Linked DNA regions of Homo sapiens: all the other regions are linked to region 2. The links come from fine-mapping of genetic effects on gene expression. A gene starts in region 2. Each other region holds a variant in brackets. All regions are shown on one strand. Distances are from middle to middle.

Region 1 (8,169 bases), 32 kb after region 2:
TCCTCACCACCAAGGCAGTGACCCTCAAAAGGTACGGCCTTGCGGGAAGTTGGTCCCATTTCTCTTTGTATTAGCTCTGAGAGGAAACCTAAGCTATTCTTCTAGGTGGGCTGCAGAAAACTTCTGTGCCGTGTGGAACATCCTTTGCTCTGATGAGTTTTCTATCATTCTTTTTTGGAGAACATGAGGGCATGGCAGCAGCCACTACAGCAGGAGCCTGGAGTCCCAGCTCTGGGCCCTAGCCAGCTCACCTGCATATGAGGGATTAACTCTCAACACTGCTGGATCTGGCTCAGGTCTGAGTTCCTCACCTCAGCTCCACCATGTAGCCTGGGGTGAATGGCAAACCCATGGAAAGCGTTTAATTATAGCTTCTATGTACCATCGGGTAGACTCAATTACCTAATCCCGAGAAAGCAGTTTTAGCCAAGCCTTATGTTGTGAACTCTTTCAGAGGCCACCTGGGCTCTTGCAGGGGAACTGTGTCTAGTTCTTACCAGTGGAAGTCAGACTTTTTTCTTTAACCAGAGATTTGTGTAAATGGGAGACTTTGTTAAAAATATAACAGATTTATCAGAATTTATGGCTTAAAAAATTGCAGCACAGGGAGGGAAATGATGGTGTTTATTCTAGTGACCATTTCTGTCCATTAAAACTGAAATTCTTTTTTTTTAATCTTTTTAAAAACTGTGTTTTTTTTTTTGAGACAGAATCTCGCTCTGTTGCCCAGGCTGGAGTGCAGTGGTATGATCTTGGTTCACTGCAGCCTCTGCCTCCTGAGTTCAAGTAATTCTCCTGCCTCAGCTTCCCTAGTAGCTGGGATTACAGGTTTCCGCTACCACACCTGGCTAATTTTTGTATTTTTAGTAGAGACGGGGTTTCACCATGTTGGCCAGGCTGGTCTTGAACTCCTGACCTCAAGTGATCCACCTACCTCGCTCTCCCAAAGTGCTGGCATTAGAGGCATAGGCCACGGTGCCCAGCCTAAAAACTTTATGTTTGTTTGTTTATTTTATTTTATTTATTTATGTATTTTTCTGAGAGAGAATCTTGCTCTGTCTCCCAGGCTGGAGTGCAGTGGTGCCATCTTGGCTCACTGCAACCTCGGCCTCCTGGGTTCAAGCGATTCTCCTGCCTTATCCTCCCAAGTAGCTGGGATTACAGGCGCCCACCACCACGCCTGGCTAATTTTTGTATTTTTGGTAAAGACTGGGTTTCACCATGTTGGCCAGGCTGCTCTAGAATTCCTGACCTCAAGTGATCCGCCCACCTCGGCCTCCCAAAGTGCTGGGATTACAGGTGTGAGCCACTGCGCCCAGCCCTAAAAACTTTATTATGGAGGATTTTATACCCATACAGAATTAGGATTGTATAGGGAAACTCTATGTCTCCATCACTCAGGCCCAATATCCATCAACCTTTGGTCAATTCTGCCCCATCCTCCTCCCCATCCCGTTTATTCTGAAGCAAATCTCAGGAATCATATTATTTCACTCGTAAATGTTTCAGTGTCTAAGACAAGAAATTTAAAAATCATACCTCAAAAAATTTCTTAATATCAGATATCCTGTCAGTGTTCAAATTTCTACTCATCTCAATTATCATAAGTGGTTTCTTTTTTTAAAAAATCAGAATCTAAATAAAGCTCAGACATTGCAATTGGTTGATGACTTTTAAATCTCTTAATTTATCTCCACCCTCACCACTTGCTACTTACTTGTTGAAGAAACCAGGTTGTTTGTAGATTTTCCCCATAGTCTGGATTTTGCTGATTGCATCCAGAACTGGAAAGTGTGAAAGCATATTAGAGGAAATGAAAAGGCTCTGCCGATCGAGAACTCTGGTTATACAACTGTTCACAAGCACTTAGCAGGAACAACGAGGAATGCTAAAATTCTTATCACTGTGCCCTCTTATGTGGTGCCTGCCTCATGGTGATCTTAATGTTCTCCTAAAGATAGGGAAGAACAGGACCCTAGACCACAGTCTTGTGCTTGGGAGCTACACTTGGACAGGAATCACCACCCAAAACTGGCAATGCAGACAGATTACATGTGTTTTCTTCCGCAGATTTGTTCTGATCTCCCCAGACATCCGTCATTCTATAATCCTACAGTTTGGACCTTCTTAGTTTTCACTTTCAGGTGGGAAAGACTAGTAATTAATTAATTAATTAATTAATGCTTTTATAGAGACAGGGTCTGGCTCTGTCACCTAGGCTGGAGAGTAGTGGTTGCAATCACAGCTCACTGCAGCCTCAAACTCCTGGGCTGAAGTGATACTCTCAACCCCAGCCTCCTGAGTAGCTGGAACCACAGGTGTGCACCACCATGCCCAGCTAATTTTTAAAAAAAAATTTGTAGAGATGGTGTCTCCCTATGTTGCCCAGGCTGTGTTGAACTCTTGGGCTCAAGTGATCCTCCCACCTCTGCCTCCCAAAGTGCTGGGATTACAGGCTTGAGGCACAGCACCCAGTCAAGAGGTTTTTGGGTTTTGTTTGTTTTTTGAGACGGAGTCTCACTCTTGCCCAGGCTGGAGTGCAGTGGAACAATCTTGGCTCACTGCAACCTCTGCCTCCCGGATTCAAACAATTCTCCTGCCTCAGCCTCCCGAGTAGCTGGGATTACAGGCGCACACCACCATACCTGGCCAAGAGTAGTTATTTTGGAAAGAGAGACGTTTCAATCTTCAGAACATATCTTTGGCCGGGTGCGGTGGCTGGTGCCTGTAATCCCAGCACTCTGGGAAGCCAGGCTGGGAGGATCACTTGAGCCCAGGAGTTCAAGACTAGACTGGGCAAGCAACATGGTGAAACCCCATCTCTACAAAAAAATACAAGTATTAGCCAGGTTGTGGTGGCATACCCTGCAGTCCTAGCTATTTGGGAGGCTGAAGTGGGAGGATCACTTGAGCCTGGGAGGTTGAGGTTGCAGAGAGCTGTGATTGTGTCTCTGTACTCTACCCTAGGCAATGGAGCAAGACTCTGTCTCCAAAAAAAAAAAAAAAAAATTTATCTTTGAATTCTTTCTTTCAATATATTGTTATCTGTATTTCTGTACTGAGTGCTGTGCTTCTTGACCTGTCTCTGCCCTTTTCTGTGTATTTATTTATTTAATTGACAAGTAAAAATTGTATATATTATGGTATACAAATACAGCTTGATGTTTTAATTTATGTATACATTGTGGAATTATTAAG[T/A]CAAGCTATTTGACTTAATTGCCCCATATACTTGTCATTTTTTGGGGGTGATAAAGACACTTAACATCTACTGTCTTAGCAATTTTCGATACACGATATATTGTTATTAACTATAGATAGCATGCTGTACAATGGGAGCTCTTAAACTTATTCCTCCTGGGCCAGGCGCAGTGTCTCACGCCTATAATCCCAGCACATTGGGAGGCCAAGGTGGGCGGATCACTTGAGGTCAGGAATTCAAGACCAGCCTCACCAACATGGTGAAACCCCATCTCTACTGAAAATACAAAAATTAGCCAGGCTTAGTGGTGGGCGCTTGTAATCTCAGCTACTTGGGAGGCTGAGGCAGAAGCTTGAACCAGGGAGGTGGAGGTTGCAGTGAGCTGAGATGATGCCACTGCACTCCAGCCTGGGTGACAGAGCAAGACTCTGTCTCAAAAAAAAAAAAGAAAAAAAGAAATGCTGTGAGGAATTATTAGCCATGAAGCTTCAGCAGGCAGGTTAGGTAGCTTTTCCAGTCACATACTGGTGAAGTAAGGATTTGAACCCCAAGACTCTGGTGCCAGAGTAATTGCTCTTCACCATGAGGAGGCACCAGTGGGGGAGTGTTGGATCACAAGCAGTTTCTTTTTCTTTTTTTTTTGTTTTTTTGAGACGGAATCTGGCTCTGTCACCTAGTCTGGAGGGCAGCGGCGAGCTCAGCTCACTACAACCTCTGCCTCTCAGGTTCAAGCGTTCTCCTGCTTCAGCCTCACGAGTAGCTGGAATTACAGGCGCCCGCCACCATGCCTGGCTAATTTTTATATTTTTAGTAGAGATGGGGTTTCGCCACGTTGACCAGGCTGGTCTCAAACTCCTGACCGCAAGTGATCCACCCACCTCAGCCTCTCAAAGTGCTGGGATTAGAGGCATGAGCCACTGCACCCAGCGCAATTTCGTTAGAGACTTGGTGCCTTCCCATTTCTTTTACTCAGCAATATACCAGCTTTAGGTCCTAAATTAAACCTCTTCCTGCTTTCCCACCTGATGAAGAAACGTGCCTGCAGTGTGGTGAGTCTGGACCACGCAGACTCAGAACAGCACTACTCACAGCAGGGCCTCTTGCTCGCTCTAGCTGCTGGGAGGAAAACGGCTTGCTAATCTCCACGCCCAGAAATTCAGACAAGAGCATTCTCCTTATCTCATCTGCACAGGAAGCAGGTCTAAGGTAAAAGATTATTTTTGTGGAAGATTCTTGCTTTTCAGTCTAGTGGTTGAAGTGTGAGCCTGGCAGGCGTTGGATTAGAGAGGGCAACAAGAGTGGAGGTTGTGAGGTGGGGGGTTGCCTTGGGGCTTCCACTCTAAAATGTGGCCTTACCTTGGCCACAAAGGGGTCGGGGGGGTGGGGGAGAGAGAGAGAGAGAGAGAGAGGGAGAGAGCAGCCTGATCATAGCTCGGAGCGTAGAGGTTCTGGTAAGTTCCTTGCCCTAAAGAACACTTAGTTCATTCTGGCTCCTTTCCTGGTGACCATCCTGGCTTCCTGCTTGGCCTTCACCTCACCTTGAGAAATTCAAGTTTCATGTTCTTGTCCAGGCCAAAGACCCAGAAGAACCTTCAAGGTGAGGCTTGGCCCCTTAGATCCACGCCGTGATTTCGCTTCTTTTTCCTGAAGCCTGCACAGATGCCAGTGTAAGCCCACTCCCAGGAAGTCACAGCAGTGGTCTATGCTCCTCCTCTTCACACTGGCCAGTGCTGGGCATGCCTGGACAATCAGCCCTGGAATGGCTGCTCTCAGCCTACAGAAGAAGAGAGGGAAGAGGGATGGAGGGGCTGGGGAGAAGTTGGTGAGAGGACACAAAATTTGGGTTAGACAGAGAAATAAAGTTTTTTTTGTTTTTTGTTTTTTTCTGAGATGGAGTTTCACTCTGTCACCCAGGCTGGAGTGCAGTGGTGTGATCTCAGCTCACTGCAACCTCCACCTCCCACTTGGCTTCCCAAAGTGCTGCGATTACAGGCATGAGCCACCGCTCCCCAGCCTCCTCATGGGATTTTTGAGGATGACATAAAGGAATACATTTAAACTGCCTAGAAGGGTGCTTGGCCCAGAGTATGTGCTAATTAACGTTGGCTACTATTATTTTCCTTCAACCCAGTGCCGGTGCAGGTCTAGAGGAAAGCATGAGGTGATACAGGGGCACCCAGAGGCGGAGTGCTCCCAGGAGCTGAGGGGCATCGGAGGCTTCCCTGGAGGACTGGCACCTGAGCAGAGGAATGGGCAGCACAGTGGCAGTGCCACGTGTGCGGCACAGATGGTGCAGAGGGGATGGGTGGGCACACTGCGGGGAGTTTAGATTTAGCCAGGGGATGGCAGGGCCTGTCCAGGAGGTTAAGTGAGGAGCTCAGGTGTGCCTCCCAGCAGGCAGGGGAGGCTAATTTTGAAGAAGAGCAAAGTAGGTGCAGGAGGTGAGTTGGGATCTCATGCAGTAATTCAGGCCAGAAGTGACAAGGGCCTGAACTATGGCGCTAGGGTTGAGGAGGAAGGAACAGAGAGTGAGGAGATACAACCTGGCAACTGATTGCATGAGAGAGAGAGAGGGGCCAGGAATAGCATCATACTCAGGTTTCTGGCCATGCAGTTGGGTGAATGAGGGTATTGCTGTTGACTGGAGCAGCAAAAAAAGGGGATCCCCTCTGGGGTAGAGGAAGAAGGGAGCAGGGGATTGGAAAATGCCAAAATCAGTTTGCTGTGGTTTGGAATCTGAGACTCTGATGTGTTACCTAAGTGGAGATGTCCTGTGGTCAGTTTATTTATACTCTCCTGGGTCCTAGGTAGGATTTAAGGTGACATATGAAGATAACACAAAGTAGAGTAAGATATTATAAATTAAGTAGGAGAGAAAGCAGACAGAAAAGAACGAGATGTAAAGTAGAGGAAGGAATGAGGTTAAATATAAAGTACACAGCAGAAAGCAGAAGTCACAAGCTGGCCAGCATTCGCTGAATTTCCTGTTTGAGTTGTCCTGCAGTCTTATGTTTGTCTGTTGGGTTTTGGTGGGTTTTGTTTGTTTGTCTTGAGTTGCAGTCTTAAAATCCAGGAATTCTTAAAAATTAAAATTTCTCACTTTTTCTTTTAAAAAAAAAAAAAGTGAAGTTCTGGGAGCTCTGAGCCATATCCCATCTGGCAACGATGATCTGGGTCTGAGAAGCAGTCTCGCCTTCTTGGGAGAGCACGGGCTCTCCAATTTCCCACTGGCCTCCACTCCACTTGGCTGTCTGGCACTGAAGCAGTGTCGGTCCTCTTATCAGCATGGACTATTTCTCTGAACTCACCCTTCTATCAAATGTAATAAAAAAAATTAGTCAAGATATTTTTTTTTTCTTAGTCTCAATTTTGCCTGTTTACACTAGCAGCCTGGCCGTGGAAGCAGGCTGATGCTCCCTGTTCACAACTGCTTTTCATTCTGCTTAGTGCCTCTGTTGTATCTGTTGTTAAATAGTTTGGGCTGGGTGTAATGGCTCACACCTGTAACCCCAGTACTTTGGGAAGCTGAGGTGGGTGGATTGCTTGAGGCCAAAGTTTGAGAATAGCCTGGCCAACATGGTGAAAACCCATCTCTACTAAAATACAAAAAAATAGCCAGGAATGGTGGTGCACACCTGTAATCCCAGCTACTCAGGAGGCTAAGGCACAAGAATTGCTTAAACCCAGGAGGCGGAGGTTGCAGTGAGCTGAGATCCCGCTACTGCACTGCACTCCAGCCTGGGTGACAGAGTGAGACTCTGTCTCAAAAAACAAACAAACAAACAAAAAACAGCAAAGTTTGAACATGACCCGGCTGTAGGTATTTGAGTTTGCAGCATGTGGTAAAATCAAGTATTCGGCCTAGGTGGCTCATGAACTTGATTCTAGGCTTTCTAGCAGCCAAAGAAAAAGAGGATACATTATCTGTCTTATCCTATCTTATCAGCTGGGCTATTCATAGTATCCATGGGATGACTGCTTAGGCAAGTCAGGACTCTTCTCAACACAAGAACCAGAGCAACATTTTTCCCCTGAGAGTCTTCATAGAGAGGGAATGAAAAGTTCAAACAACATTCATCCCAGAGTCGATTCAAGTCTAAGGCTGATGATTCTAGCAGCTTCAAGCAGCATTTCCCTTGAAGCACAGCTGCTTAAACAATTCTAGGAGGGGCCAATGTGATACAGTTCAGACACCTAATTTTCTACTGATCTGGCTATATTAATTTCAGAAACTTTAGAAAAATCTAGAGAAATGCCTGGACTCCCTCCAAATAATCCTCCATAGATGGTCTGAGGATGTGATGCCTGGAATTGCAGCAGTCATCTTGTGACTGTGCGGGGACAAGTCAGAGATGAGAGCTGGCACACAGAAGATAGGGAAGAAGAAAGATAGATCTTGGGCCCTTGATAGCATTGACAAAACACTGAAACAACCAACTTTTATAGTAAGAGATAGCAAATTACCTTATTAAGCTTGAACTACTTTTATTTGCTTATTCTATTACTTGCTAATATGGTTTGGATCTGTATCCCCACCAAATCTCATGTCAAATTGTAATCCCCAGGCCGGATGTGTTGGCTCCCATCTGTAATCCCAGCACTTTGGGAGGCTGAGGCAGGCAGATCATCTGAGGTCAGGAGTTCAAGATCAGCCTGGCCAACAAGGTGAAACCTTGTCTCTAGTAAAAACACAAAAAATTAGCCAGGTGTGATGGTGCACACCTGTAGTCCCAGCTACTGGGGAGGCTGAGGCAGGATAATTGCTTGAACCCAGGAGGCAGAGATTGCAGTCAGCTGAGATAGTGCCACTGCACTCCAGCCTGGGTGACAGTGCAAGACTCCATCTTAAAAAAAAAAAAAAAGAAATTGTAATCCCCAGGGTTGGAGTGGGGCTTGGTGGGAGGTGACTGGATTATGGAGGTGTAGTTCTCATGAATGGGTTAGCACCATCCCCTTGGTGCTGTTCTCAT
Region 2 (8,169 bases):
GCGACCACTATGACCAATTCACTCCTTGCCTACCATCCAGACACCTTAGCCTCACTGCCAACAAGCTAAGAGATGCTGGCTGAGTAAGGGCCTACTCTGGCTTATAAGGACCCCTGCAGCTCCAGTGATTTATAATTCTAAGTAAACTAACACTTTAAAGAGATGAGTCAAGAGCTGCTTGATGGAAAATCACTCCAGGCAAAGGATACTGAGTGCAAAGGAATGACGGGGGCATACATGGCTGGAGCAGGATGATGATATGAATCACAGGCGATAACATCAAGGAGGTGGTGTGTGTGTGTGGATGGGGAAGAGGGGACAGGATGTGTAAACCTTTGATAGATTTTGGTTTTCACTCAGAGGGAAGTGGAAAGCACTTTAGTATTTTTGTTTTCTTTTCCTTTTTTTGTTCTTGGAGCAAAAAATGGAGTGTTGCTCTTGTTGCCCAGGCTGGAGTGCAATGGTGCCATCTCGGCTCACCACAACCTCCGCCTCCCAGGTTCAAGTGATTGAACAGCCTCCCGAGTAGCTGGGATTCCAGGTGCCCGACACCACACATGGCTAAATTCTTTTGTATTTTTAGTAGAGACAGGGTTTGGCCATGTTGGCCAGGCTGGTCTCAAACTCCTGATCTCAGGTGATCTGCCTGCCTCGGCCTCCCAAAGTGCTAGGATTACAGGCATGAGCCACTGTACCCAGCCTAATTTTCATTTTATAATTTTTTTTTTTTTTGAGACAGAGTCTTGCTCTGTTGCCCAGGCTGGAGTGCAGTGGCACAATCTCTGGTCACTGCAACCTCCGCCTCCAGGACTCAAGCGATTGTCCTGCCTCAGCCTCCGGAGTAGCTGGGATTATAAGCCTGTGCCACCACGTCTGGCTAATTTTTAGTAGAGATGGGGTTTCACCATGTTGGCCAGGCTGGTCTCGAACTCCTGACCTCAAGTGATCTGCCTGCCTTGGCTTCCCAAAGTGCTGGGATTACAGGTGTGAGCCAGTGTGCCTGGCCAAATAATTTTAATTTTTTAGAGACAGGGTCTCACTTGGTTGCTCAGGCTAGAGTGCAGTGGCACAATCACAGCTCACTGCAGCCTGGAGCTCCTGGGCTTAAGTGATCCCTCTGCCCAGCCACCTGCATAGCTGGGACTATAGGTGCATACAACCACCCCTGGGCAATTTTTTTGTAGAAATAGGGTCTCAATATATTGCCCAGGCTGATCTCAAACTCCTAGGCTCAACCAATCCTTCTGCCTTGGCCTCCCAAATTTCTGGGATTATAAGCATGAGCCACTGCACCTAGCCTGACTCCAAGACTTGATTTGAGCAATTGGAAGGATGGAGTTGTAATTTAAGGAGAGGGGGAAGACTGTGAAAAGGGCAGTGGAGGTGTAATGAATCAGGAAGTTAGTTTTGGACTTATGCTTGATATGCCTGTAGAAACATCCAAGGGGGGATTTTGAATAGCTAGATGAATATGCTATATGTCTGGATTGGGGAAATCAGGAGTAGAAATAGAAATTTGGGAGCTGTCAACATATAGATCGTATTTAAAACCATGGGAGTGAATGAGGTCACCAAAGGAATGAGTGTATACTTTGAGAAGAAAAGAAGTCTGCTGGGCGCAGTGGCTCATGCCTGTAATCCCAACAGTTTGGGAATCCAAGGTGGGAGGATTGCTTGAGCCCAGGTGTTCAAGACCAGCCTGGGCAACATAGTGAGAACCTGTCTCTACAAGAAATAAAAAAGTATTAGCCAGGCCTGGTGGTGTGTGCCTGTAGTCCCAGCTACTCAGGGCCTGAGGTGAGAGGATTGCTTAAGCCTGGGAGGTTGAGGCTGCAGTGAGCCATGATCGTGCCACTGCACTCCAGCCTGGGCAGCAGAGTAAAATCCTGTCTCAAAAAAAAAAAAAAGAAAAGAAGTCCAAAGACTAAGCTAGGGGCACTCACTCCAGAATATAGTGGTCAGGAGGGTAGGTGGGAACTAGCAAAGAACCCACTTCTGAGTTGCTAATGCGACAGATGGAGAATCAAGAGAAGAGTGGGCCTGGAAGCCAAGTGAATAGAGCATTCCAGAAAGAGGGAGAAATCAATCGTGTCCAATTCTACAGCTAGGCTGAGTAACTGAGAAAGGACTGAAAGAGGACCATAGGACTTACCATGTGGATTTCATTACTAACCTTGTCCAGAGTGAGTGCTCAATGAATCAGTGAATAAATGAGTGTAACTTTCTCCAACTATATTTGATTAGGACCCAGTAACTTGGGACTTTGTTTCTCCAGGAAGAGTTTGACAAATTATTTGAATGAAATACCTTTTCCCTCAATGTCTAAACTCCTCTTTGGAATTGTAGGTGGTGGAAGATTGCAGAAGGTTCCTAATCTCTGGAAGCCAGGCAGTCTAGTTGCCTGTGGTCATTTCTTTGTACTGTTCCACACAGCCATACAATACTCCAATCCCTTCAGGGCGAAGGAGTCATCAACACCTGAAAAACAAATACTATACTCCCAAAATTACAGAAAAACACCTGCAAACTGACTCAAGTGAGTTTAGTTCATTTAGTCAGGCTGGGGGAAGAAACCACATTTTTGAGATAATTAACTCATAGCATTGTTCAATAAAGTCTTTTATTGGAAATTGTGATGATTCAAGGCATATTCCCATAAAATACAGTGAAAATTTAAATCGAAAGCAGCTGGACCCTGATGTATTGTTCTCTGAAAGAGGAAGATTCCACCTTAAAGGCAGTCATTCTATAGCAGTTCCCATTTCTTAGGTGCTTACTATATACCAGAAACGGTACTAAGAAGTGCTTTATGGACATTTAGCAAAGTGAATCCTCACAACCACCCTACGAGAGAGGTACTAGTATCATTCCCAGATGATAGATGTAATATTAATAAGCTACAGATGAGGAAATGGATGCTTGAAAAGTTTGAAGGGACATCTTAGGAATCAGTTATCTCCCCTGGGGAGGGACCTTCAGGAATGGCCTGATCCCTATCAGGAGAGCTGTCCGCTGTTCAGGATGTCAAAGGTTCCTGTTCTGCTTCTAGAAGTCAGCTTTTCCTGGGAGGAAAAGTGGGCATGGGCTGAGGTGAGAGCTGGGGTGCAGGTGGAGTATGAAGACTCCTCAGAGAAAGGAAATAAACAAAAAATATTTATTGAGCTTCTACCATGTATCAAACCCAGTCACTAGTCACTATTTTATCCTCAGACAGACACCTATAAACCTTTAAACCACGTGTGTGTGTATATATATATATATTATAAGAAAGCTTAGAGAGGATAAGTAAACTTGGGATCACACAGATGTCAACAAGGGGAGAAGCCTGTCCGGGTGTGGTGGCTCATTCCTGTAATCCCAGCACTTTGGGAGGCTGAGTGGGGAGGATCACATGAAGCCAGGAGTTCCAGACCAGACTGGACAAGATAGGGAGACCCCACTTCTATTTTCTAATAGAAATTAAAATAAAAAATAAAGAAAATTTCTTTATACATTGAGCTGAAATTAAACCCCACTGTGGCTTCCACCAATTTTTGCTCTCTGGAGCAACTCAAAACACATCTAAATCCTCTTCTACAAGCGAATCCTTTAAATATTTGAAAATACCTATGTCTCTCTTCTGTGCTCTTCTGGTACCAATAGTTTAAATGGGTAACAGTAGACTTTGTTTTATTCAATCTTTTAAAAAGCAAATAAAAAGTAAGACATGCTGGGTGCGGTGGCTCACGCCTGTAATCGCAGCACTTTGGGAGGCGGAGGTGGGCTGATCACGAGGTCAGGAGTTCGAGACTAGCCAGACCAACATGGTGAAACCCCGCCTCTACTAAAAATACAAAAATTAGCCAGATGTGGTGCACGCCTGTAACTCCAGCTACTCGGGAGGCTGCGGCCAGAGAATTGCTTGAACCCAGGAGACAAAGTTTGCAGTGAGCCGAGATCACGCCACTGCACTCCAGCCTGGGAGACAGAGCGAGACTCCGTCTCAAAAACAAAAAGTAAGACATTACCAATATGATGCCAACCCTCATGCACTCATCCCCAACCCCACACTTCTCTTCTCCCACCCCTTCTATCTGCTTTTGTATTTATTTAGCCTATGGGATCCCAATGCAGAGGAGCCCTGGTGGACGCATTTATAGTGCAGCGATGAATAGAAGACAGTGATAGTCTTATACTGGAGTTGAAATGTGATAAACATTTATACACTGTGTTTATAAGTCGTGTAACTCTGGCCAATTTATCTGGTCTTTCTAAGCTCACTTTCCTCGTCTGTAAAATGGGAAGAATAATCATACTTATTGCGCTGGTTGTTATGGGGATTAAGCAAGATAATTCTCTAAAGCTTTGGCACTTGGCGCTGAAAGTAGCCATTCCATGTCTTCTTTCCCGCCCCGCCTCTTGTGCTCCCCACCGCTTTCGTGATGTCCGCAGTTGCCCACCTGCCTCTACAATAAAAAACGCATCCCTCCTCCTGCAGGGTCCACCGCACCGGGAAGCCCTGTCTGTATCAGTTACCAACCACAATTGCAGTGAGTACGAATCGTGGCTTTCCCACAGTCAGGAAAGGCAAGGGAGACCGACGACCCGCTTCTCTAGGAGTAAGTAAAGATTAAAGGTAGTTCGCGGTATAGCCTAGGCAGGGATTAACCCGTGGTCCCAGCGCTCCTGCTATTTGCATTCCAAAGCAGACACCTCATGCGCTCAACCCCGCCCGCAGGCGGCTCCCGCAGTCTAAGGGACCTGGCGCGAGTCCGGGAAGCGGAGGGCGCAGCTGCGCAGGGAAGGGGGCCGGGGGCGGGACCAGGGCGCGCGTTCCGGTCCCGGGGCGTGGCCTCCCGCAGGTGAGTACGCTGCTCCTTCGGTTTCCCTGAAACCTAACCCGCCCTGGGGAGGCGCGCAGCAGAGGCTCCGATTCGGGGCAGGTGAGAGGCTGACTTTCTCTCGGTGCGTCCAGTGGAGCTCTGAGTTTCGAATCGGCGGCGGCGGATTCCCCGCGCGCCCGGCGTCGGGGCTTCCAGGAGGATGCGGAGCCCCAGCGCGGCGTGGCTGCTGGGGGCCGCCATCCTGCTAGCAGCCTCTCTCTCCTGCAGTGGCACCATCCAAGGTGAGAAACCTGGCCAAGGAGGGCTCTTATCTCTGAGGAGCTGGGGTCCTGGGCACGCTGGGCAGACGGTGGGATCCGGGCAGGTGTGCGAAGGCTGTTCTGCTGCCGGCACCCATCTCTACGAATCCCTTAGCCTCCCCTTGGTGGCTTTGATGTGAGGTCTCTGCGCCAAGGAGGCACCCAGGTGGGACATGCGGGAGCAGCTGAAGTCAGCGGAGCCGGGCAGAGGCAGAGATTTCCCCAAAGACCCCACTTCCCGTAGAGGCTGTCATGCTGGGCACCTCCAGGCCCCAGCGTGGGTTCGGGGAAAGGGAGGGAAGGAAGGAGTAGCTGTGTCTAAAGGGTACGCAGAGGACCTAGTCCCCTCCCCGGGCTTGGTTGCTTTGTAAACACTAAGTCATTAAGAGCTTTTTGCCAACTCCGGAGACTTCCTCCGCTGGCCCCGCGGGGCCGGTGGGGTTAGCGAGCTGATTGCGCAGGGCAGGGCGGAGTGGGTGGGAACCCGCGGCCCGGGAGCCTTCTAGGTTGTTTTTTGCGTCCCTCTCCAACTGCTGGAAGCCTTTCTTCGGGTTCTGGCCCCTGCGTTCGAGACCCACCCGGGTCCCGCTGCTCCTGGCACCCACAGTGGAAGGCCCGGGGTATGAAAGTCAGGGCCGGTCCCTGATGGGTTCTGGTGGTAATGAGCGCTCAGGCCCGTTGGGCGCCACGAGGATTTACGAGCGGAACTTTTTGGACCCTGCCTTATATTTGACCAGTTGACCCTCTGGGCCTGGGGTTCCGGGACTTTCCTAGTGTGCCACCCGGAGCGGCCACTGGCTGCCACCCAGGTCTGCAGGCCAGAGGCTGGCTGGCCTGGGAACAGAGCAGCACTTGCGCCCGGCCGTCGCGTTCCTTGGATGTGCTGCTCCGGGTGTGCTCGAACTTGTATTGCTGGGAGTGTGTTCTTCCGGGCCCAGCAGGCCTCGCTGTGGCCGTGGGGGATGTTTGACCTGCGATCGCGCCACTGTGATCCTAACCGAGGCCCCTCTGTTTGGGGCAGCCTGGGTAGCAAAGGGAGCTTTTAATTTCCCTCAGAAATGCGCATTTCTCACTTTTATCCTCCTCTTCATAAAGACGAAGTAAAAGAGCAAGTCACAGTGGGTTGGAATTAGATGGAAGAATGTGATTCTTTTCCCTCTGCAGTTAGGGAAAAGGGTGTTAATGGTGTAAGCTTGAAAACTGTGCACCGCTGGTATATTTTTTTTTCTTAATCAGCATCAGAATAAAGGCATTTAGTTCCAGGAAGTATTGAAAACTGTAATGGACACCTCTCCTCTATGTCCTTTAAAGTTGGAAACTTAAAATTCAGGAGCAAAGGTTAGTATGTGCAAACTTTAAAAAAATACATGTTGGTATAGCTGATTCAACATCTTTATGATTCAGAGATCCCTGTAGGAAGCATGCCCCGATTATTTGTCTTGTTCTTGTTTACTACTCTTGGGGGATTGGGAGATCCCTGGATTATAAGGCGAACTTGATTTAACAATAAGGAAAAATCAGGTTACTTGTTAACTATAGCCACTTAATATTGCACCTTGTTCCTCATCCTCCCCCCACCATACTTTTATTCCCTTGCAAAGTAACTTTCCCAAAGGGTTAGTGAAGTAACACTGACAATTGATTTAGGCAGATGGAGCTTTCCTCCCACCTTAAAACTAAATTGATTTTAATAAGAAATACAGTGTTAGCAAAGCTTTTCTGCCCTCAGGGTGGGTCTTTGCTCACTCGCTTTTTAGCCGGTCCTTCTGCGTGCCCCTCAGGTGGCTGCAGGGCCGATTTGGGGTTTGATTTTCTTCCCAAAGCCTCACTCCAAAAGACTGCCTCATAGAAACGAACTCAGCCGAGATCACAACCTTCTCAGGGTACAGGTGAAGGACACTGAATTGAGGAGGCAAGGCAAGGAAAACACTTGGAAATCAGGGCTTCTCTTTCCCTTTACAATAGTAATTGATAATTATTTGGGTAAACATGCTTAATATGTGTCCTCACTGCATCGTTAACTCCTGGAGGCAGGGGGCCCTACCATCCTTTCCATCACGTCTAGCATAGTCTCATCACCTACGGGACCTCAGTAAATAGCAAATGAATGAAGTGAGGAGTCTTGCCCAGAGTACCCTGGCTGGTCCATGTGGTGTTCATTTCAGTCAGCTTCTCTCTGCCACTTACTTATTTTTTTCCACCATGTTACAGGCCTAGGTCATTCCATTTATCTTTTGGAGACTGGAACTTCTGTTTTCTTTATAATTGGTTTGGTGGTTTTTTTTTGTTTTTTTGGTTTTTTGGGTTTTTTTTTTTTTTGACTCTCATTCGGTTGCCCAGGCTTGAGTGCAGTGGTGCAATTTTGGCTCATTGCAACCTCCACCTCTCCCGGGCTCAAGGAAGTCTCCTGCTGCAGCCTCCCGAGTAGCTGGGACGACAGGCACGCACCACCACCCCCAGCTAATTTTTGTATTTTTAGTAGAGACAGGGTTTCACCATATTGGTCAGGCTGATCTCAAACTCCTGACCTCAGGTGATCCACCCACCTTCAGCCTCCCAAAGTGCTGGGATTACAGGCATGAGCTACTGCGCCCTACCTATAATTGTTTTTTAAATTATAAAAACAATATGTGATCACTCGAGGGAAAAATGAGCCAAAACAAAAAAAGGAAACATTTAATTAAATCACCCTGAACTTCAGTACCAAAGTAGCCACCGCTAATATTTCGGCTTATATATTTTCCCACTCTTTATTACATCCATGCACAAAATATGTATTCACAAATACAGAAAATATGTTTGTGCAAGTATGGGATTATATAAGCACATCAGTATCATGTCAATACATATAAAACATTTTTAATGACTCCAAAATGTTACAGAAGGATGCATCAATTTTAAAATTAGTCCTTTGTTGATAGACATGTGGTATTTCCATTTTTTTTTTCCCCCTGAGATAGAATCTCACTCTGTTGCCCAGGCTGTAGTGCAGTGGCACGATCTCGGCTCACTGCAACCTCTGCCTCCCAGGTTTAAGTGATTCTCAT
Region 3 (8,169 bases), 22 kb after region 2:
GAAGTCCAGAGTCGCTGACAGGTCCTCTGTTATCTAGGTGTTCTCTTCAAGATTCCATTTGGTCATGCAGCCTTGGAGAAATAGGAATGGGATGGAACTTGCCGTGTTTATATTTAATCTCTTACCTTATATGCGTAGTGTTTCTTTTGAGTTGCGCATAAATATTCCATTTTTGTTTTCTACAAAAAAAAAAAAAAGTGCTGTATCAAATATCTGTATACAGACATCTGTGAGCATATTTTTTGAGGATAAGTTTCTAGAAGTAGAATGGCCAGCTCAAAAGTTAGATGCTCATTTTAGGTTTTGATAAGTCTTGCCAAATTGTCTTCAGTAATGTATATTTCTACCAAAATGGTATATTTGCACCTGTTTCCTGAAATGCTCATCCACATTCCATGCTATCAATCTTTGGTTTCCCAATCTTATTGTTGTTTTACTGAAGAAGCAGCACAGCCTGGTGGCTAAGAGTGCAGGTCCTGGGCTGTGCTGAATTCTGACTCCATCACTGCTTACATTAGGGATGTTTTTATTACCTCAAGAAGTAAGAAAAAAAATGCGACTCATTTGTCAAATGGGGATAGTAGTATCTCAGTTTCCTCACTTGTAAAATTAGGATAATAGTATCTTCCTCATAAAGTTATGAGAATAAAATTATTTGGCACGTTTATGTGGTCACAAATATTAAATAATATTATTATTATGCTCTGTGGACAAGACCTGTTTTCTGCTCTGCCCCCTTTCACTTCAGTGTCACTGCTTTCTTTGCCTGTTCTGCTTTGAGTCTGATTGCAGGCCTGTGAAGTTGTCCCCGTTTGTCAGGTGAGAAATGAGAAAATGGTGGGAACAGGATAAAAGGGAGCAGGAACAAATGGCTCACAGAGCCCCGAAGGCCATCTGTAGCTGACCTCCACCTCAGTGGAGAACATTTTTTTGGTGTTTGTCATTTCTTGGTTTTTTTTTTTTTTTTTTTTTTTTCTGGTGGGGGGTGGACAGGGTGTCGGTCTATTACCCAGGCTGGAGTGCAGTGGCTATTTCCACGTGTGATTCCACTACTGATCACTATGGGAGTTTTTCCTGCTGCATTTCCCTCCTGGGCTGGTTCACCCCTTCTTAGGCAACCTGGTGGTCCCCTTCTCCTTGGAGGTTACCATATTAATGCTGAACTTAGTGCAGACAATGATCAGCATAGCCCACTACAGCCTCACACTCCTGGATTCAAGTCATCCTCCTGCTTCAGCCTCCGTATTAGCTCGGGCCTACAGGAACATGCCAACACTCCTGGCTATAGTCTTTTTTTTTCTTTTTGTAACTATGCAAATCTCTTTTTTGTGGCTATACTTTAAGAATAAATGTGTATGAATGTGTGTACATACATATATACTTTAACTTCTAAATCAGTTTATATAAATTGTCCTCATAATTTTTTTAACTCATTCACTGTTTCTCATTAATTTATTTTTATTTTTTTTTTGGTAGAGACAGGGTCTTGCTATGTTACCCAGGCTGGTCTCAAACTGTTGAACTCCAGAGATCCTCCCTCCTCAGCCTCTCAAAATGCTGTGATTACAGGCATGAGTCACTGTGCCCTGCCTGTTTCTCATTATTTTTAATGACCAGGTAGTATTTCATGTATGAATGACCCAACATTTAGTCAGAAGTACCTATTAAAGAACAGATATTTTTCTTGGTTTATTTTCACCAAGCCTTTGAATCTACATTAAAAAGTACAAAAGAACCAGGCGCGGTGGCTCACGCCTGTAATCCCAGCACTTTGGGAGGCCGAGGCGGGCGGATCACGAGGTCAGGAGACTGAGACCATCTTGGCTAACATGGTGAAACCCTGTCTCTACTAAAAATACAAAAAATTAGCTGGGCGTGGTGGCGGGCGCCTGTAGTTCCAGCTACTTGGGAGGCTGAGGCAGGAGAATGGCATGAACCTGGGAAGTGGAGCTTGCAGTGAGCCAAGATCGGGACACTGCACTCCAGCCTGTGCGATAGAGCAAGACTCTGTCTCAAAAAAAAAAAAAAAAACTAAACAAAAAAGTATAAAAGAAATGATTTGAGAAATTAAAATTATTTGCTAAAGCAAAAGCTTATTTTTTTTTTGAGATGGAGTCTCGCTCTGTCATCCAGGCTGGAAGTGCAGTGGTGTGATCTCAGCTCATCGCAACCTCTGCCTTCCAGGTTCAAGTGATTCTCCTGCCTCAGCCTCCTGAGTAGCTGGGATTACAGGCGCCCGCCACCATGCCTGGCTAATTTTTTGTATTTTTAGTAGAGACGGGGTTTCACCAGGTTGGCCAGGCTGGTCTCGATCTCCTAACCTCAGGTGATCCACCCACCTTGGCCTCCCAAAGTACTGGGATTACAGGTGAGAGCCACCGCGCCTGGCCCAGCAAAAGCTTTTCAAATCGTTTTGTTCTGCCTTTGAAAAGTGGCTTAGAAAACCCCCTGGTCTATCTGAATTAGGCTCCTGATTGGAAGCATGAGGAACTCTGGCCCTAGCGGAGTAGTACCTTGGATGTGGTTGTCTTTGCTCTTGTGTTATATGTCATACTGTGGTCTAATTTCTCTAAACTGAGTCCTAAAATGTCTGAAAATGTAAATACTTTGAACTCCACAGGCTTATGTACTAACAGTGAGGCCTCTTAATTTGAAAGTGAACGAAGATTTGCAGTCCTGATGCTCAGGACAAAGGCCAGTGCTAAACTGACTCGGCTGGAGTTGTTTTATGGGCTTTTTCCTAACGTGTCACCTCAGTGGTTTGCAGCAGGAGTTTCAAACCTGTAATTAATTTCCTGGTTATCAAGGTTTCATAAACTTTAGGGCTATAATCTCATCAGTATGCATAGTTTAGTGATTACAACTTTGTTCCTGAAACATTAACCCTTTGGAGGCCCCTGAGAGGACTATAATTTATTGCAGAATCAAAGGTAGTACTTGCTGTCCTCCGGATCTTGATTAAAATGATAAGTTTTTGCTTGGGTGTTTAGATGTCTTCTCAAAAAGAAGTTTCTGATGTGGCCAGTCCTTTCCTGACCCCCAGTTCTGAAGACAAAAACCAAGCCCTTAGTGATCAGGGATCTAGCCCTACATTTTATTCAAGCCTTGGAACTTCACTGAGATGATTGTCCCACTTAAATGTCAACAATTAGAGTGACTCAGACCAACCTTGGAATGCCTCTCTGGAGGGACAGTTTGAAATATTCCGTGATTTGAGTATGAACTGCTCTTGCCTCTACCAGTGGGTCAATCTATGGACTGTTTCCCAGCCTTTGTCTTTATTGGTGAGAAATTAAGCCTGACCAGAGTTACAGACAACCTCCGGTAAAAACCACAGCCCAAGCCTGCGGGCCCATCAAGAACCCAGCAGCAGTGTGAGTGGTTCAATCCTTCATCCTGTGAAAGGAAAATAAATCCTGTGGCCCCAAAATCACTAAGCTAATGGGAAAAGTCAAGCTGGGAACCGCTTAGGGCAAACCTGCCTCTCCTATTCAAAGTTACCCCTCTGCTCACTGAGACAAATGCATATCTGGGCCGGGTGCGGTGGCTCATACCTGTAATCCCAGCATTTTGGCAGGCCGAGGTGGGCGGATCACGAGGTCAAGAGATCGAGACCATCCTGGTCAGGAGTTCGAGACCAGCCTGGCCAACAAGGTGAAACTCCGTCTCTACTAAAAATACAAAAAAAATTAGCCGGGCATGCTGCTGGGTGCCTGTAGTCCCAGCTACTTGGGAGGCTGAGGCAGGAACATCGCTTGAACCCAGGAGGCGGA[A/G]GTTGCAGTGAGCTGAGATTGCGCCACTGTACTCCAGCCTGGGTGACAGAGCAAGACTCCATCTCAAAAAAAAAAAAAAAAAAAAAAAAGCATATCTGATTGCCTCCTTTCTAGAGGCTAATCAGAAACTCGAAAGAATGCAACTGTTTGTCTCTCATCTACCTATGACCTGGAAGCCCCCTCCCCGCTTCAAGTTGTCCTGCCTTTCCAGACCGAACCAATGTTCATCTTACATACGTTGATTGATGTCTCATGTGTCTCTAAAATGTGTAAAACCAAACTGCTCTGAGCACTGTGAACCCTAAACATTTGAGACAGTTCTCAGTTAATTTAGAAAGTTTATTTTGCCAAGGTTGACGCATGCCTGTGACACTGCCTCAGGAAATTCTGACGACATGTGCCCAAGGTGATCAGGGCACAGCTTGGTTTTACACATTTTAGGGAGACATGAAACATCAATATATGTAAAATGTACATTGGTTTGGTCTGGAAAGGCGGGATAACTTGAAGCAAAGACCAGAAAAGCAGGGAAGGGACTTCCAGGTCACAGATAGGTGAGAGACAAACTCTCTTGCATTCTTTTGAGTTTCTTCCTTTCCAAAGAAGGCAATCAGATATGCATTTATCTCAGTGAGTGGAGGTTGACTTTGAATAGAACGGGAGGCAGGTTCGCCCTGTGCAGTTTCCAGTTTGACTTTTAACTTTTAGCGCAGTGATTTTGGGGGCCCAAGATATTTTCCTTTCACACCACCTTGGGCACATGTCGTCAGGACCTCCAGAGGCTGTGTCACGGGCATGTGTCCTCAACCTTAGCAAAATAAACTTTCTAAATTAACTGAGACCTGTCTCAAATATTCAGGGTTCACAATTCCACAAACATTCATTGCAACATTACTGCATTATTAAATGCAAATAATTAAATTAGGATTTCCACCTTAACAGCTATCCAGTTGAGGGGTTGATGTTCTCTCAGTGGAATACATCAATATTTAAAAAAAAAACACAAACCCCAGAAACCTAACCCTCCAGTATATGGGCTTCTCAAAAGCCTTTAAAGCATAGCTTATTCCAGAGCTAGATCCTGAGACAGGCAGAAAGTCAAAGTAAATGTGAAGGACAAGAAGTTTCCAGAAGGGCCACTACTATGGCTTACCCCCCTAACCACTGCTTTGTTTACACCATTGCTTGAGCCCAGCAGTTCAAGGCTGCAGTGAGCCACGAAGCCATGATCACACTAGTGAGTAGCTACTACACCCCACCCTGAGGAACATAGTGAGACCTCATCTCTAAAAAATGAAAAATAAATAAAAAGAAGAAGAACTGAATAGAATAGAATAGATGGCAAATAGGCATATTGAAACATAAAAGATGCTTAGCCTTAGTCATTAGAAAAATGCAAATTAAAAAACCCATACCTATTGAGTAGCTAAAATAAATAAGTAAATCTGAGAGTATAAGTATATAATGAGAAATGAACACCCTCCCTACCCACCACATGGGAACCCGTTTATACGCCCTCTGTATATTCTTTGAGATGTTTTTATGCATGTATAAACATGTATACATGCTTTTTAAAAATAAAAGGAGTTACACCATGTATTAGTTAAATTACACATAAATTACCTCAAAATTTAGTGTCTTAAGACAGTCATAAACATTTACTAACTTTCACAGTTTCTGTGGGTTATGAATTCAGGAGCAGTTTAGCCCAATGGTTCTGGCTTAGGATCTCATGAGGTACCAGGTAAGATACTGGCTGGAGCTGCTGCTAGCTGAAGATGTGACGGGGGCTGGAGGATCCTCCACAGGGCTGGCATGTTGGTGGCAGAAAGCTTCAGTTCCCCTCCACGTGGGCCTCTTCACAGGGCTGTTGGACTGACCTCATAACATGAAGATTGGTGTTCCCCAAAATGAGTGATCCATGAGAACAAGGGGAAAGCCACAATGCCTTTCATTACTTAGCTTCAGAGGTCACACACCATCACCTCCACCATGCTAGCTCCAATTGCTTGGTCAGACAAGCTAGCTCCAATTCAATCTGGGAGAAGACTACCTAGCATAAACACCAGGAGGCGAGGATCACTGGGGATTACATGGGAGGCTGGTTTCTGCATTATATACGTGAACACATCTTGGATATGATTGCCATGTTAGCATTTACAGATTGACCTCATTATTTTAAATGGCTATCTCCATGTGCACATATACCATAATTTATGGAATCCAGCTTATGCTATACTTATATTGCTATATAAATAATATTTGAGTGGAAATCTGTACATACTTGTTAATTCAATATTCTTCCACCACGCACTATGTGCCAAGTCATCTTCTAGGCAGTAAGGAATATTGTGGAGAACAAAATAGACAAGAACTCTATTCTCATGGAGTTTACTTTCTGATTGGAGAAAGACTGAAAACAAAACAAAATATCCAATAGTAGTAAATGCTAAGAGTATTTTATATTGGGAGATCAGGGAAGGTTTCTAAGGAGGTGAAATTTAAGTGGCAATGTAAAGGGCAGGAGAGCCAGCCATGGGAGGATCCCAAGCAAGGGCTTTATGGGAATGAGTAAGGGAAGGAAGAGTATGAGCAAGTAGGCTGGAGAGAGGCAAGAGCTTGATAACTGAAGGGAACTGTAAGGGAGTAAGGAGCTTGATTTTCTTTCTACATGGGATGCCATAGGTTTGTTTTACTGCCCATTTAAAAAATCACTGGTGGCCGGGCGCGGTGGCTCACGCCTTTAATCCCAGCACTTTGGGAGGCCAAGGCAGGCGGATCACGAGGTCAGGAGTTCAAGACCTGCCTGATCAACATGGTGAAAGCCCGTCTCTACTAAAAATACAAAAATTAGCTGGGCGTGGTGGTGTGCACCTGTAATCCCAGCTACTCAAGAGGCTGAGGCAGGAGAATCGCTTGAACCCGGGAGGCGGAGGTTGCAGTAAGCTGAGATCATGCCACTGCACTCCAGCCTGGGTGACAGAGCGAGACTCCCTCTCAAAAAAAGAAAAAAATCACTGGCTATTATGTGGAATAGGGATTATAGAAGGACAAGATGAGAAAGCAAGAACAATTTGGAGTAATCCAAGCAAGAGGTGATGTTGGCTTGAATTAGGGTGGTGCTAACAGAGAGGGAGAGAAGAAGCCTAAAGTCAACAGATGTGAAAAGAAGAGGAATCAAAGCTTGTGCCTAGAGTTTCTGCTTGATGGATAATGGTGAAATAATTAGGAGTGAGCATGTTTGGAGGTTGAAAGTTAAGAGTTCTGTTTTGACCATGGCATCTTGAGATTGAGATGCCTGTTAGACATCCAAGCAGCATTGTTGAGTAGGAGGTTGGGTGCGGTGGCTTACACCTGTAATCCTAGCACTTTGGGAGGCTGAGGTGGGAGGATCATGTGAGCTCAAGAGTTTGAGATCAGCCTGGGCTACGTGGCAAAACCCTATCTCTACAAAAGATAAAAATAATTAGCCCAGTGTGGTGGCATGCGCTTGTGGTCCCAGTGTTACTCAGGAGGCTGAGGTGGGAGGATTGCTTGAACCCAGGAGGCAGAGGTTTCAGTGAGCTGAGATCGTGCCACTGCACTCCAGCCTGGGCAACAGCGCGAGAAAAAAAAAAAAAAAGAACTTGGTGAGGTTACCTATGTTACTAGAAAGGGGTCCAGATCCAGATCCCAAGAGAGTTTTCTTGGATCTCACTCAAGAAAGAACTCAGGGCGAGTCGATAAAGTGAAAGCAAGTTGATTAGGAAAGTGAAGGAATAAAAGAATGGCTACTCTGCAGACAGCAGCCCCCATAGCTGGTGGTTGCCCATTTTTATGGTTATTTCTTGATGATATGTTAAACAAGGGGTGGATTGTTCATGCCTCCCCATTTTAGACCATATAGGGTAACTTCCTGATGTTGCCATGGCATTTGTAAACTGTCATGGTGCTCGTGGGTGTGTAGCGGTGAGGATAACCAGAGGTCACTCTCGTGGCCATCCGGTTTTGGTGGGTTTTAGCCGGCTTCTTCACTGCAAACTGTTTTATCAGTAAGGTCTTTATGACCTGTATCTTTTTTTTTTTTTTTTGAGATGGAGTTTCGTTCTTTTTGCCCAGGCTGGAGTGCAGTGGCATGATTTCGGCTCACTGCAACCTCCACCTCCTGGTTCAAGCCATTCTCCTGCCTCAGCCTCCTGAGTAGCTGGAATTACAGGCATGCATCACCACACCCGGCAATTTTTTTGTATTTTTAGTAGAGACGGGGTTTTGCCATGTTGGTCAGGCTGGTCTCGAACTCCTGACCTCAGGTGATCCACCCGCCTCGGCCTCCCAGAGTGCTGGGATTACAGGTGTGAGCCACCACACCAGGCCATGACCTGTATCTTGTGCTGACCTCCTACCTCATCTTGTGACT
Region 4 (8,169 bases), 27 kb before region 2:
GGCGGTTGGATCACGAGGTCAGGAGATCGAGACAATCCTGGCTAACACGATGAAACCCCGTCTCTACTAAAAATACAAAAAATTAGCCGGGCGTGGTGGTTGGTGCCTGTAGTCCCAGCTACTTGGGAGGCTGAGGCAGGAGAATGGCATGAACCCAGGAGGCAGAGCTTGCAGTGAGCCAAGATCGCACCACTGCACTCTAGCCTGGGCAACAGAGTGAGACTCCGTCTCAAAAGAAAAAAAAAAAGTCTGGATTTTATCTGTGCATTTTATGTGTCAACTTGACTGGACCACGGGATGCTCAGATATTTGGTTAAACATTATTCTGAGTGTAACGCTGAGGGTGTTTCTGGATGAAATGAACATTTCTATAGGTTGACTGAGTTAAGCAAATTGCCCTCCCCCATGTCTGTGGGCCTCATTCAATCGTTGAAGGCCTGAATACAACAAAAAGGCTGAATATAACAACATTTGTTCTCTCTGGCTGACTGTTTTTGCGCTGGGAACATTAGGCTTCTGCCTTTGGGCTTGGACTTGGACTGGAATTTACATCATTTGTTCCCCTGGGTCTCCAGCTTGGCAACTGCAGATCTTGGGATTTCTCAACCTCCATAACTACATGAGCCAATTCATTTGTATATGTGTATATATTGGCTCAGGACAGCACACCTGACAACTCTGGTTCCCAGCTGCAGGGGGAGGCTACCCAAGTATCTGGCAGATCTCCAACTATGCATGCACAGGGTAGACTCCAAGCAGTTCAGATAAGGCTAAAATAACAGAGGCTTCAGCTGTTCACTCACCACGGGGGAGGCAAAATTCAGAATTTGAGTTCAGCCAAGTTAACTGCCTACTAAACTAAAAATTTGGGATAAGCCAGGTGCAGTGGCTCACACCTGTAATCTCAGCACTTTGGGAGGTCGAGACAGGCAGATGACTTGAGCCGAGGAGTTCAAGACCAGCCTAGGCAACATGACAAAACCTCATCTCTACAAAAAAAATAAGAATTAGCGGGGCATAGTGGTGTGTGCCTATAGTCTCAGCTACTTGGGAGGCTGAGGTGGGAGGATCACTTGAGCCCAAGAGGCAGAGATTTCAGTGAGCCGAGATCATGCCCCTGCACTCCAGCCTGGGCAACAGAGTGAGTCCCTGCCTCCAAATAATAATAATAGGTCTGGCCCAGTAGCTCACGCCTGTAATCACAGCACTTTGGGATGCCTTAGAGGGCAGATCACCTGAGGTCGGGAGTTCAAGACCAGCCTGACCAACATGGAGAAATCCCATCTCTACCAAAAATACAAAATTAGCCAAACTTGGTGGCACATGCCTGTAATCCCAGCTACTCGGGAGGCTGAGGCAGAAGAATCATTTGAACCTGGGAGGCGGAGGTTGCAGTGAGCCAAGATCGCACCATTGTACTCCAGCCTGGGCAACAAGAGCGAAACTCCATCTCAAAATAAATAAATACGTAAAATAATAATAATAATAAATAATTTGGAATGTCCTGGCTGGGTACTCAGCAGGTCACTGAATATGCAGATATGTGGGAGAACAAGGGTAGGGGAGTGAGCAGGAACCTGGGGAGACCAAAAAGCAGAGAAAGAACTCGGACAGGTCTTGCCACTGCAACAGTCAGAGTAGGAGGCAAGTGCCACTGCCACAGCCGCCAGACACGGGCCCTTGCTGCTCCTGGACTCTTGACCCTGCCACCCTGGAAACAATCTGTCATTCTCCTGACATGCAGGTACTAATGCCCTCAAAAGTCAAAAATCCTGGGTAGGAATGTCTGATTGGTGTAGCCGGTATCATATGCCAGTGCCCCAACTACCAAGGAGAAGGGGAAAAGAATGTCTGTGCGTCCTTCGGCTGCCAGAGTAGGGTACCTCCTGCAAGCTCATATTTCCCCAGGAAGCAGGAAGCAGGAAGCAGGAGCCCATGCCAGGAGGGCCACTCTATTGCCAAAAGGAAATCACAGCCAAAAAAAAAACAAAACACTCTTTTTTTTTTTTTTTTTGAGAAGGAGTCTCTCTCTGTCACCCAGGCTGGAGTGCAGGGGTGCGATCTCGGCCACTCTTTTTTTTTTTTTTTTGAGAAGGAGTCTCTCTCTGTCACCCAGGCTGGAGTGCAGTGGTGCAATCTCGGCTCACTGCAAGCTCTGCCTCAGGGGTTCGTGCCATTCTCCTGCCTCAGCCTCCCGAGTAGCTGGGACTACAGGCGCCCGCCACCACACCCGGCTAAGTTTTTTTGTATTTTTAGTAGAGATGGTGTTTCACTGTGTTAGCCAGGATGGTCTCGATCTCCTGACCTCATGATCCACCCGCCTCGGCCTCCCAAAGTGCTGGGATTACAGGCATGAGCCACAGCGCTTGGCCTTTTTTTAGACAGAGTCTAGTTCTGTCACCCAGGCTGGTGTGTGTCATGTGCATCCATGTGAAGAGACCACCAAACAGGCTTTGTGTGAGCAATAAAGCTTTTTAATCACCTGGGTGCAGGTGGGCTGAGTCCGAAAAGAGAGTCAGCAAAGGGAGTTAGCAGTGGGGCAGTTTTATAGGATTTGAGTAGGTAGTGGAAAATTACAGTCAAAGGGGGTTGTTCTCTTGCTGGCAGGGGCGGGGGTCACAAGGTGCTCGGTGGGGAGCTCTGGAGACTTATTGTCCAGGAAAAGGAATGTCACAAGGTAATGTCATCAGTCAAGGCGGGAACCGGCCATTTTCACTTCTTTTGTGATTCTTCAGTTGCTTCAGGCCATCTGGATGTATACTTGCAGGCTTGGGCTCAGAAGCCTGACAGTGTGCAGTGGCACAATCTCAGCTCACTGCAACCTCCGCCTCCTGGGTTCAAGCAATTCTCCTGCCTCAGCTTCCCGAGTAGCTGGGACTACAGGCGCACGCCGTCACATCTGGCTATTTTTTTGTCTTTTAGTAGAGATGAGGTTTCACTGGGTTGCCCAGGTTGGTCTCGGACACCTGAGCTCAGGAAATCCACCCTCCTGGGCCTCCCAAAGCGCTAGGATTACAAAAAAATCCTCTTTGACTATCCTCTATTTCCTTTCTTTTGCTCTTTCTTCCCTTATCTTCCTCACCAACTTTTTAATCTACATACAAAATATTCTGTGCATTGTGGAGAGCAGGGAATTGAAAGTGTGGTTGGCTGAATAATGGTCATCCAGAGATAGCAGTCCCTAATCCCTAGCACTTGTAAATGTTGCTGTATAAGGAAAAACGGGCTTTGTGTATGTGACTAATTTAAGGATCTTGCCATGGGGAGATTATCCTGGATTATCTGGGTGGACCATCACAAGTGTCCTTGCACAAGCCAGGCAAAGGGAGATTAGACGCACAGCAAGAGAGGAGGCAACGTGGCCACCAAGGCAGAAATTAGAATAATACGGCCACATGTCAAGGAGAGCCAGCAGCCACCAGGAGCCGGAAGGGACAAGAAGCAGATTCTCCCTAGAGCCTTCCAAAGGCCCACAGCCCTGCTGACAGCTCGCTTCCACCAGTGATACAGATTTCAGACTTCTGGCTTCCAGAACAGTGAGAGAATATATTTCTGTTGTTTTAAACTATCTAGTTTATGGTAATTTGTTACTGCAGTCACAGGAAACAAATACGCAATATGAAGAAGATGTGAAAATATTATACCTTTAAAACAAGGCAGAAAGAAGGAAGCAAGGATGCTGAGCTCATGAGTGCAATGTTAGTCACCTAGCACACAAAGGAGTGAAAGCCAGATAAAATAATCCAGAAAACCATGTGTCTTTCGAAAATAAATCTAGGATTAGAATAGGACAGACTGAGTAACACAGGGAAAAGTAATAACTCTGTTGATCCATCTAAACCAGATATATAATCTCCTGACAAATAGAGCAGGAGGTATGAATAGGAGGACATTTTAGTTGTTTAACTGGTGAAATGTTAGGGGGTGGAAGGGGGAAAGAGTGGCACAGGCTAAATCGGCTAGATGACTCAGAAAATGAATTTGTTTTCAGATAATTGCTTCCTAACGTAGCAATGATGCAGCTCTTAGTCATTCCAATAGCAAACAGCCATTCTGATAGCAATTCCACAGAGACAGCAAACCAGCTAGAACAAAAGACTGCTCCACCCACAACAAGGACTCTGGTGGGAAAAAGTTCCTAGTGAATGAATCCAACATAATTGACTCTGAGCTGCTCTTGTGTCAAAGACAGGCTA[T/C]GAGAAACTGGCATGGATGGGAACAGCTTCAGACATTGGCTTCCTGTTGTGTCTTCTTGCTGCTGTGAAATGAGGCTCTAAGATAAACAGAGCAGAGGCACATCTGGAGAGGAAGGTTACCAGAAGGGTGATGTCACTAGCAGCAAATCAGAACCCCATCTTTCAGCCTAGCAGGGATTTGAAGGATTTGTATCATAGTATGCAAGGGGCTTCCAGCACTGCATGGCCTCTATCTTTAATCAAAGTCAGAAGCCTACAGGCAGGAGTGGGCTGAGCTTCTCATGTGTGCTCACATCGTGCTGGTGAGCCACTGAAGGCCTGATAGGAGGAGAGTAAGACTCAAAAACTCTGCTTAAAATCCAGATGTGTAAATGAGACGTACTCTATTAAAGAGGACAAGAATCAAACATAGGAAAACTATTATACCACTAAGATGACACAAGGCCCAAGCTGAAGTGCTTAGAAGTTTGTGGATATGAATTAACATATTTTTTTTCTTGAGTTAGCATGTGATTCCTACTCTTTGAGAAAGGTGGCTTTAGCCATGAGCTTGTACTGTTGGTGGGACTTGCTGTTTAATCAGTCAACAAATCACCAATGGGCACAGCTGTGTGCTAAACGCCAACAGGAATATAAAAGCACAGCATCCCTGATCTTAAAGGGTTTTTGCAGTTCTGCTGGGAAAATTAAACAAGCAGGAAACATCAGCATTCCAATGCAGTAAAAGCATATTGTGTACTCTTGCCTGTTGCTGCTACAGGAGTTTATTAATTCATCCACTCAACTAATAGTTATTGAATGTCTGCTTGGTGCCAAGCATGCTTCTGGGATACAGCAGTGAACAAACCAACACCAAATCTCTGCCTCATAGAGCTTACATAGGGTTGGGGAAGGTCAGACGCATTGGAGATATCTACTAGACACCAAGGTGGAGATCAGATTGATGAGGGTGGAGCTCAGGGAAGAGATCTGGACCAGAATTCAGAACTCAGAAGATGTAAACACCAGAGTGGGCTGGAGATGCTTCAGGGAGCAGGGAAGACTTGAATGGGGCCCGTTTCACAACAGCAACAAAAGCCTCTTTCACCAGTTCTCTAGGCCAAGGCCCAAGCCCTCCTGGTTTATCTACTGCCTCTTTTCCCCACTTCTCCTTATCAGTTTCCTCTTTCCGGCCCATTTTCTTCATTCCCATCTGTCTTCTTCCCTTCCCCGTCTGCTTCCTTCATCTCTTCCTTGGATGGTTCCCTTCCTGCTTCCTTGATTCTATTCTCACCCCACTATGTTCCATAATGAATAAGAAAAATCAATTAAGCAAAAAATTATTCTGACCAAAGATGATAGGAAAGGAAAGAATTCTTAGAGGATCACCCCTTGAGAGAGAATTCAGTCTGTGTTAATTCTTTCAATCTGAGTAAAGTCTTCCAGGCTCCTGAGCTTGCCTTTCTGTGTGATATTGTTACAGGAAAGGGGTCCCGATCCAGACCCCAAGAGGGGGTTCTTGGAGTTTGCGCAAGAAAGAATTCAGATTGAGTCCATAGAGTAAAGTGAAAGCAAGTTTATTAGGAAAGTAAAGGAAAAAAGAATGGCTACTCCATAGACAGAGCAGCCCCGAGGGCTGCTGGTTGCCAATTTTTATGTTTTTTTTCTTCTTATCTTTTTTTTTTTTTTTTTTTTTAAGATGGAGTTTCACTCTTGTTGCCCAGGCTAGAGTGCAATGGCCCGGTCTCGGCTCACTGCAACCTCCGCGTCCCGAGTTCAAGCATTTCTCCTGCCTCAGCCTCCCAAGTAGCTGGGATTACAAGCGCCCATCACCATGCCCAGCTAATATTTGTATTTTTTTTAGTAGAGATGGGGTTTCACTATGTTGGCCAGGCTGGTCTTGAACTCCCGACCTCAGGTGATCTGCCTGTCTCGACCTCCCAAAGTGCTGAGATTACAGGTGTGAGCCACTGTAACTGGACTGGTTATTTCTTGATGATATGCTAAACAAGGGGTGGATTATTCATGCCTCTCCTTTTTAGACCATGTAGGGTAACTTCCTGATGTTGGCATGGCATTTGTAAGCTGTCACAGCACTGGTGGGAGCATAGCAGTGAGGATGACCAGAGGTCACTCTCGTGGCCATCTTGATTTTTGGTGGGTTTTGGCTTCTTTTTTTTTTTTTTTTTTTTTTTTTTGAGATGTTGTTTCACTCTTGTTGCCCAGGCTGGAGTGCAATGGTGTGATCCCGGCTCACTACAACCTCCGCCTCCCAGGTTCAAGCGATTCTCCTGCCTCAGCCTCCCGAGTAGCTGGGAATACAGGCATGTGCCACCACGCCCGGCTAATTTTGTATTTTTAGTAGAGACAGAGTTTCTCCATGTTGGCCAGGCTGCTCTCGAACTCCCAGCCTCAGGTAATCTGCTCTCCTTGGCCTCCCAAAGTGCTGGGATTACAGGCATGAGCCACCGCGCCTGGCTGGTTTCGGCTTCTTTACTGCAACCTGTTTTATCAGCAAGGTCTTTATGACCTGTATCTTGTGCCGACCTCATATCTCATCCTGTGACTTAGAATGCCTTAACCATCTGGGAATGCAGCCCAGTTTTCAGCCTCATTTTACCCAGCCCCTATTCAAGATGGAGTTGCTCTGGTTTAACTGCCTCTGACAATATTATCAGATCCTAAAACACAATCTTAGAAATAGCTGCTCTTTCAAAACACTAGACATATATTCAAAGCCATAGAAATGTGAATGCTGACTTCATTGTTAACTGTGCAGAGAGAGGGAAATGAGAGAAAATACATGTAAATTAGCATACTTGTGTTTTCAAAGTTGTTTTTATTTTTTATTTTTTTTGAGACGGAGTCTCACTCTGTCACCCAGGCTGGAGTGCAGTGGCACGATCTTGGCTCACTGCAACCTCCGCCTCCGGGATTCAAGCGATTCTCCTCTCTCAGCCTCCCAAGTAGCTGGGACTACAGGTGCTTGCCACCATGCCCAGCTAATTTTTTGTATTTTTAATAGAGATGGGTTTTCACCATGTTAGCCAGGATGGTCTTGATCTCCTGACCTTGTGATCTGCCTGCCTCGGCCTCCCAAAGTGCTGGGATTACAAGTGTGAGCCACCATTCAAAGTTGTTTTAACAATCTTATAAATTCCTTTTTTTTTTTTTTTTTTTGAGACAGAGTCTCACTCTGTTGGCCAGGCTGGAGTGCAGTGGTACAACCACGACTCACTGCAGCCTCAACTTCCTGGGTTCAAGTGATCCTCCCACCTCAGCCTGCCAAGTAGCTGGGATTAATTTTTTCTATTTTTTGTAGAGATGGGGGTCTCACTATGTTGATTGGGCTGGTCCCAAACTCCTGGGCTCAAGCAATCCTCCTACCTTGGCCTCCCAAAGTGCTGGGATTATAGGCATGAGCAATGGCACCCAGCCTTACATTCTTTTTGTAAGTTCAGGTGAGTTTGATCTTGTATCATAATAGTGAAGGCCCTCCTTTTTTATGTATCTTTCTTCTTTTTTATTTATCTTTATCCCTCCCTCCCTGTCTCCCTCCCTTCCTTGCTTCCTTCCTTTCCTCCCTCCCTCCCTTCCTTCCACGGAGTCTCTGTCGCCCAGGTTGGAGTGCAGTGATGCGATCTCAGCTCACTGAAACCTCCACTTCCCAGGTTCAAATGATTCTCCTGCCTCAGCCTCCCAAGTAGCTGGGATTACAGGTGCCCACCACCATGCCCGGCTAATTTTTGTATTTTTAGTAGAGACAGGGTTTCACTATGTTGGCCAGGCTGGTCTTGAACTCCCAACCGCAAGCAATCCGCAGGCTTCAGCCTCCCAAAGTGCTGGGATTACAGCCATGAGCCACAGCACCCGGCTTATCTTTTTTCTTTAAAATAATACAAACTCATTCAAATATACTTGGAAAATACGGAAAATAATAGGGAAGGAAATAAAAATCAACTATTTCATCATTCAGAGATGATGATGATTCGGA

Alleles and levels. Positions count from the first base shown, and alleles are read on the strand shown. Sizes are in standard deviations (SD) of each study's normalised expression. Not every link is listed here.
With allele A in place of G in region 3, the expression in whole blood of the gene that starts at base 4,870 in region 2 is higher (moderate effect, 0.43 SD a copy in GTEx).
As copies of C replace T in region 4, the expression in aorta of the gene that starts at base 4,870 in region 2 goes down (moderate effect, 0.66 SD a copy in GTEx).

What was found.
Region 1: its variant is fine-mapped to the expression of F2RL1 in blood mononuclear cells (TOPMed, PIP above 0.99).
Region 3: its variant is fine-mapped to the expression of F2RL1 in whole blood (TOPMed, PIP above 0.99).
Region 4: its variant is fine-mapped to the expression of F2RL1 in aorta (GTEx, PIP 0.98). The same link has a PIP of 0.9 or more in tibial artery.

The regions. Positions count from the first base shown.
Region 1 is chr5:76,845,751-76,853,919 of GRCh38, forward strand. S100Z (S100 calcium binding protein Z) reads left to right here and starts at 4,264. Exons shown (of 5, transcript NM_130772.4): 1 at 4,264-4,405. The variant T/A (reference allele first, on the strand shown) is at 3,199.
Region 2 is chr5:76,814,161-76,822,329 of GRCh38, forward strand. F2RL1 (F2R like trypsin receptor 1) reads left to right here and starts at 4,870. Exons shown (of 2, transcript NM_005242.6): 1 at 4,870-5,104. The coding sequence starts at 5,023. RefSeq lists enhancers at 399-1,053, 4,586-5,203, 5,204-5,821 and a silencer at 4,604-4,898.
Region 3 is chr5:76,835,913-76,844,081 of GRCh38, forward strand. It overlaps the pseudogene RN7SL208P. Among named protein-coding and RNA genes, the nearest start is that of S100Z, 10 kb to the right of the region's middle. The variant A/G (reference allele first, on the strand shown) is at 3,774.
Region 4 is chr5:76,786,774-76,794,942 of GRCh38, forward strand. No RefSeq gene overlaps it. Among named protein-coding and RNA genes, the nearest start is that of F2RL1, 28 kb to the right of the region's middle. The variant T/C (reference allele first, on the strand shown) is at 4,197.